Homo sapiens: one gene and its partner. The gene in region 2 interacts genetically with the main gene of each other region. Each region holds a gene or a part of one and is shown on either strand. Other genes may lie near its edges.

Region 1 (3,821 bases), on a different chromosome or scaffold from region 2:
ACTGAAAACAGCCCTATCCTAAGAAAGTGGTTAAATTATGGTCCACACAACAGAATACTGTGTGCTGCCTTCTTTAAATAAAATGGACTCATACATCAGACTTACTAACATGTAAGAATCAACTGTTTAAACGGGGTGGGGGGAGAGAGGCGAGGAGCAGTAGCTCACGCCTGTAATCCCAGCAACTTTGGGAGGCTGAGACAGGTGGATCACTTGAGGTCAGGAGTTGGAGACCAGCCTGGCCAACATGGTGAAACTGTTTCTACTAAAAATACAAAAATTATCCAGGCATGGTGGTGGGCACCTGTAATCCCAGCTACTAGGGAGGCTGAGGCAAGAGAATTGCTTGAACGCAGGAGTTAGAGGGTATAGTGAGATGAGATCAGGCCAACTGCACTCCAGCCCGGGCGACAGAGCGAGACTCCGTCTCAAAAAAAAACAAAAAACAAAAAACAAATTGGGGGGAGAAAAAAAGCTACAGAATATACAGATTACAATTTCATTTAGGTTAAAAGAAAAAAATAGGTAAGTATAATAGATATGCACATTGATGTATATATTTTCATGTATGTATGCATGTATGTAGCATGTAATGAAACAGAAAAGAAACTGGAAGGACATCCAAACTGCAGAATGTAGTTTAATGGTTTAAGATGCAGGATCAGACAAAGGGAGAGCAAGCCTGGAATTAGAAACCAGAGAGAGATGGGACCACTGAACTACAGGCACACAAAGCATCAAGAACTCCAAGAAACAGAGACTGTCGGCACAAATTCCATCGTTTGAAATTACAGTACACAGTTCAAACATATATAGTTCTTAGAGATGATAATCATGAGAACTACAAGAATTTAGGTCAGATCAAAGAAACTAACTTTAAAATATCTTTGGCTGAGTAAAACAAAAAAATGTGAAGCACACCCAGACTACACCAAAATGTCTATGATGGTTACTTTTTAGTAATCAGATTATAAATAATAGTTTGGGGGTGAGGAGGGATTTCGGTATCTCTCCAATGTTTCATAAAATTATTGGCAACAAAAAATATTACACTTAAAAATTTTAATGCACATTTTATCATATCTCCACATTTTCTGTTAATGAATTGCTAGTAACTTCTACAGAACATCAAATACAGAATTCAAGAGCTGATTTTCTCCTTGCTTTCACTTTTTTTCTCAAAATTCCTCAAATAGATGGATACTTACAGGAAACTTAAAACCAGCCTATTCACAAAAAACTACATATTTTGTAGACATTTTATTTTATACTATAAAAAAAAATCTTATTTATTTTTTCTTGAGACAGAGTCTCGCTCTGTCGCCCAGGCTGGAGTGCAGTGGTGCAATCTCAGCTCACTGCAACCTCCACCTCCCAGGTTCAAGCAATTCTCCCGTCTCAGCCTCCCAAGTAGCTGGGATTACTGGCGCCCGGCACTACACCCGGCTGAAAATATCTTAAACATTTTAAAAGTTAACAAAATTTATGATAGCCCCCCTCCCCTCACAAACTCAAAAGAATACAGTCTGCAAAAATTAACTAACGTCTGTATAGACAAGATATCCGAAGTTGTTCTAATAAAGCTAAATCAGGGCCCTTGACAAGTTTTTAGAAGTAAAGCTACCTTACCCAACAAGCCTGAGTTCTGGCCAAATTCAAAAGGGCAAAATTTAATGTGAAATACAAAGGAAGGAAACCAGGAAGAAGTTTTTAACAGGGAGAGGATTACTTCATTTTGTCAAATAAATTATTGAAGTAATCTTTCCAAGGTAGAGTCTTTGCAGAGAAGCTAGTATACACTTATATTTACTGTATCAACCATCACTAGACCAAGGTGGTCGATGTGACACTAATAAATAACTATACCAAGTACGCTGAAATATTTTCTACAAAATTCAAGACTGGCATTAAACTCCTTAAGAAAATATTTCTCACTGGCAAGATCTGTTTTATAAATATAATTAGTTCTCCAAAGGTTTTTCTCTTTCTAGTTTATTCCATGTGCCCGGACTCCCTGTTCAAAACAAAAACGAATAAGCAAAAAAAACCAAAAACAAAACAAAACAAAAAAAACAAGTCAGTTCAAACATGACTGGGCAACCACAAACCTAATGGAAGGTTTCTGCCAGCTTTATTCTGGTCATATCTTGTCTGTAACATTAAACCTAAAGTTCTGGAAGACTTTTTTTTTTTTTTTTTTTGAGACAGAGTCTTGTTCTGTTGCCCAGGCTGGGTGCAGTGGCACCATCTCGGCTCACTGCAACCTACACCTCCCGGGTTAAGTGATTCTCCTGCCTCAGCCTCCGAGTAGCTGGAATTACAGGGGGATGACACCATGCCCAGCTAATTTTTTTATTTTTAGTAGAGACAAGGACAGGGCTTCACCATGTTGGCCAGGCTAGTCTTGAACTCCTGACCTCAAGTGATCCACCAGCCTCGGCCTCCCCAAAGTGCTGGGATTACAGGCGTGAGCCGCCACGCTGAGCCTCCTGAAGATTTAAGGAAAAAAAAAATCGTTCTAGAAATACTGGTCAGAAAGTATTTGAGATGGTCAGGGAAAAGAATAAGACTTAAAAAACAAAAGAAGGGCCAGGTGTGGCAGCTCACACCTGTAATCCCAACAATCTGGGAGGCCGAGGCGGCAGGATTGCTAAAGCCTTTGAGTTTGAGACCAGCCTGGACAACATAGTGAGATCTCGTCTCTAATAAAAATAAAAATTATAATAAAATAAAATAAGAAGTACTGGGACACATGGCTATTCAGCTGGTAACTTTGTCATGGATAAGCAAATAATACTCCTTAATCACACAAAAAAACATAATGTTGAGTGAAAGAAGCCAAACAGAAATGAAAGAGTACAGGCCGGGCGCAGTGGCTCACGCCTGTAATCCTAGCACTTTGGGAGGCCAAGGCAGGCAGATCACCTGAGGTTGGGAGTTCAAGACCAGCCTGACCAACATGGAGAAACCCCATCTCTACTAAAAACACAAAAAATTAGCCAAGTGTGGTGGTGCATGCCTGTAATCCCAGCTACTCGAGAGGCTGAGGCAGGAGAATCGCTTGAACCCGGGAGGTGGAGGTTGCCGTGAGCCAAGACTGTGCCATTGCACTCCAGCCTGGGCAACAAGAGTGAAACTTTGTCACAAAACAACAACAACAACAACAAAAGAATGAAAGAGTACAAACTCTACTGTTCCATTCATATAAGGCACAAAATTAGGCAAAATAAATCTATGGTGTAAAAAGTCAAGAGGTGGTTTCCTGTGAAGGGGGCGGCTCCTTGTTTCTTCGATCTGGGAGGTGGTTACAATAGCGTTCCTTTTGTGAAAATGTCAAGCTGTACACATGATTTGAGCACTTTTTCCATATGTATTTAGGCTAAATGTCAACAAAATAGTTTACATTTAGAAAATAAAAGTCCTAATATTGCTCTAGGTATTCTCCTAGAATCTCCTTGAACAACAGCCAGATGCTAATATCAGCTAACACTTCACAGCATCTCTCCTCTCTTTCCCTCTGCACAGTTCTTCAACCTGTCTCTCTCTACTACCCATTTGCTCCAGCAACACTCCTCAGGTCCTAGAGCAGTCCAAATTCATCCCTACTTCATGGGGCCTTTATCTGGCTGCATCTTCCATCTAAGATGTACTCCTTCCCCCTTCAAAGGGCGAGCTCCTTATCCTTGGACACCAGGTCTCCCTTCCACCCCACTGGTCTCTTCAGCACTTTGACTCCTTTACAGTACACTTCACAATTTGTAATTCTGTTTCTTTCTTTCCTCACTAGAAGGTAAGTGGTAATATTTAGAGAAGTAACTTAC
Region 2 (3,821 bases):
CAATTGGATGAAGAAGTCACTCCATCTGTAGATTCTCTCCCTGGGTTCTGGACTTGGACCTGCTGGTCAGGTGCACATGTGAAGAATTACCATCCCTCCCCAGCTAGTAACAGTGTAGTGGAAATAGCAGGAACCTTGGAGGGAGACAGGTCTGAAAGTTGCCTGTGCAACTTAGTTCTTTCTTTGTGAGAAGGAAATTTCCATTCATTTCCTTATCTGGGAAGTGGGGATTCTAATGTCTGCCTCCCAAGGTTTTTGTGAGAATTAAAGTAGAGAATGTAGGTAAAATGATAGCAAGTTTCCTGATAAGTAGTGGTAGGGATGAGTTAGTACCTTCCGTCCTGGAAACCACCTGTGGGCCCATCTTGAATGATCAGTGTTATGTTAAATTCATATATTCTTTTCCACACTTTGATTAGAATAGTTAAAAAGCCACAGTCTAAATATTCTTGGGTGATAGGATATTGCAAAATTTTCCAAGGGTCTAAAATAGTGGTCTGCAAACTATGGCCTCTGTGCCAAATCAGGCCTGCCACTCCATTTGTAAATAAAGTTTTATTGGAACACAGCTCTGTCTATCATTTGAATATTGTCTAGGGCTGCTTTTGCAGAGTTGAGTAGTTGTGACAGAGACTGTGCAGCATACAAAGCCTAAAATATTTTCTCTCTGGCTTATAATAGAAAAACATTGCCAACCTCTGGTCTGAGATGATTTGCTTGGTTCTTCAGGCATTCATTTCCTTAAGATACTCAGTATCAGGCCGGGTGCGGTGGCGGGCGCCTGTAATCCCAGCACTTTGGGAGGCCAAGGCGGGCAGATCACGAGGTCAGGAGATCGAGACCATCCTGGCTAACATGGTGAAACCCCGTCTCTACTAAAAATACAAAAAAATTAGCTGGGGTTGTGGTGGCAGGCCCCTGTAGTCCCAGCTACTCGGGAGGCTGAGGCAGGAGAATGGCATGAACCCGGGAGGCGGAGCTTACAGTGAGCCGAGATCGTGCCACTGCACTCCAGCCTGGGGTACAGAGCGAGACTCCGCCTCAAAAAAAAAAAAAAAAAAAAAAAAGATACTCAGTATCCTGGGGTTGTACATTGCCAACACCAATGGGAAATAAAACTTGCAGCCAATTCATTAAATAATTTGTACAATGCCCCAAACTGATTTGATTGAATTTCTTCCTTAAAAGTGATAGAACTGTGTATAATAAACTGAACTCCATTTGTTAGAAAGTGAACAAATTGGACAGTTGCTTTTTATTGTTGTTGTTTGTATTAGGGAACAATCTACATGCTAATGAAAGGCAGGCTTGACTGATTTTCTTTGGACTGGCTGATTGTCTTGGTGTCCTGTGGACTTGGCCTTGGAACAGGAAATAATTCGTATCAGATTATTATGTCATGGATATGCCTTTGCTTTCAGACAACTTGAACAGAGCAGAGATTTAGCAAACAGAAAAATTAAGGACTTAAAATTCTCATCAACATAGAACTCTGCTCTTCAGATGTACTCTAGGGTTCCACTAAAGAGCCAATATTGTTTGGGAGGCAGTTAAAGATAAGTAAAATGTGTACTATGCATATAATTTTTGGAAGCCTATCTCCTACATAAATTTAAGCACAACTTACAATGAGAGGTAATTTAGGTTTCTGGACAACCTCTAATATTTCTATTCTATGTTACAACCTTTGCTTATTTAATAAGCCTAGTGAGCACCTTTACTTCTTACCAAGTTGATTCCATTGATTCAGCAGTTCTTTTTTTGAGATAGAGTCTTGCTCTGTCACCCAGGCTGCAATGTAGTGGTGCAAGATCAGCTCACTGCAACCTCTGCCTCCAAATTCAAGTGATTCTCCTGCCTCAGCCTCCTGTGTAGCTGAGATTATAGGCACATGCCACAATGCCCAGCTAATTTTGCATTTTCATTGGAGATGGAGTTTCACTATGTTGGCCAGGCTGGTCTCGAACTCCTGACCTCGAGTGATCCACCTGCCTTGGCCTCCCAAAGTGCTGGGATTACAGGTGTGAACCACCACGCCTGGCCAATTAAGCAGTTCTTGCTGTTAAGGGCAAGTAGAATCCAAAAGAGAGACACAAATTCACGTGCACTGTCTGGAGGTGAAATAAAGGACAAACATCAACCAAATACACAGATTTAATTGGTAAAAAAGCAGATGATGTTCTTGATGGATATTTTACTTCCTGCCCCTTATATTTATTTACTAAAGAAAATGCCAGATTTGTCCCCAAAGTTACTGACTCAGAAGTTTTGAAAGCTCTCTCCCAATTCACACTTGGGATTCTGTTCTTTCATGAGGAACCAAAAAAAAAAAAAAAAAAAATCAAGTTTGCCTACAGCTGTTCATTAAATATGTGGACATTTAATTCATAAAGAAGTCTTATAAATATTTGCTTTTAACTTTCCCATTACAAAGTGTTTTTTCCCCCTTTGACATCTTTCTAAAGTAGTTTATCTTCCCACTTAATGAAGATGTCCACCTATTTCTTATTCTGAGCCAACCAAACCAAAGTTGGCTAATTGATTATGAACATTAACATAATTCTCACCTTTATGAAATGCTTAATAACACTCTAGTTTTCTCATTTTTGTAGAACTGCTTGACAACTAAGTGAGCCTACCTGGGATGGGGAGGCCTTCTCTGAAACCCTCTTGTCCCGCTTGTGTGATACTGGGGACAAGCACTTGTAGGCAGGAGCCAGGGGTTTTACTTTCCATTCTACAGATAATTAGATGAGAGACCTTAAGCAAGCCACCTAACCACTTTGGGTCTCAAATGTTCTAGTGCTGGAATGGAACTTGCCTTTTCCTGGCTAATTTTCCTGGAGATTGAACTTGATTGAGGTTCTTTGCCAGCTCTAATTGCTGAGTTTTCCTGAGTGTTTATACAAAAAATAAATTAAAGTTTAAAATCAGAAGTCCTTAATTTAATAGATGGGATTCTTCTATCTGCTTAGGGCAGTGTTTTTATACCTTGGCTACACACTGGAATGCTCTGAGGAGATTTAAGAAACACAGATGCCTGGATCTCAACCTAGAGCTTCTGATTAAATTGTCTTGGGCATTGAAGGAGAGCTGCAAATGGCTCCCAGGTGAGAAGGCTGAGAACTGCTGACCTGGAGGTTGAAATGGATGGCTTCTAATAAACCTTTGGGCATTGCTAAGAGCAGAAGAATGCTCAATCCTTTTAACAGTGATAAACAAACATCTCTGGGGAATGGAGAACTTATTTGGTGCTATGCAGTATACAAAATGTTCTGTTGGATCAGTTTGGATTACATTTGATTGCTGGTGAAGAGACCTGAAATAACGTAGATTTAAGTAAGACAGTGGTGTCCTTTCTCTCACATAAAAGAAGTCCACAGTAGGGTGTTCAGGATCTTATGGAGTCTCACAGTGCCAACATCATCCCAGGCTCCTTTTTCCTTTCTAATCTGCCATCCTTGGCATGTGGCTCTTGTCCTCAAGATTTTTTTCATAGTTGCCATTGTAACTCCAGCCATTACATCTGTGAGCATCACATCTTCGGACAAGCAAGAAGAAGAAAAAGGAATAGCAAAAGATCATGCCTCCTGATCGCTGCCCCTTCTCCCTCCCAACACACAACTTCTGCTGACATCTGATGCCATTTCTATCTACAAGGGAGAATAGCATAATTGTTTAGCTGGGCACATTGCCACCCTCCATAATGCAGGGGCTGTTAGAAAGGAAGGGAAGGTGGATGTTGAGTGTAACAACTGCCAGTCTTCACTATGCTTTGAGTGCATTATCTCATTTAATCCTCATAAAAACTCCATGAAGCA

Evidence for each region.
Region 1: of POU2AF1 (region 2) and SIAH1, changing one suppresses a phenotype caused by changing the other (phenotypic suppression), as found in Homo sapiens cells (one study listed by BioGRID).

What each region holds. Positions count from the first base shown.
Region 1 is NC_000016.10:48,375,209-48,379,029, forward strand, and holds part of SIAH1 (E3 ubiquitin-protein ligase SIAH1), read right to left. Parts: intron 1-3,821. UniProt on the Homo sapiens protein: E3 ubiquitin-protein ligase that mediates ubiquitination and subsequent proteasomal degradation of target proteins.
Region 2 is NC_000011.10:111,372,637-111,376,457, reverse strand, and holds part of POU2AF1 (POU domain class 2-associating factor 1), read left to right. Parts: intron 1-3,821. UniProt on the Homo sapiens protein: Transcriptional coactivator that specifically associates with either POU2F1/OCT1 or POU2F2/OCT2. It boosts the POU2F1/OCT1 mediated promoter activity and to a lesser extent, that of POU2F2/OCT2. It recognizes the POU domains of POU2F1/OCT1 and POU2F2/OCT2.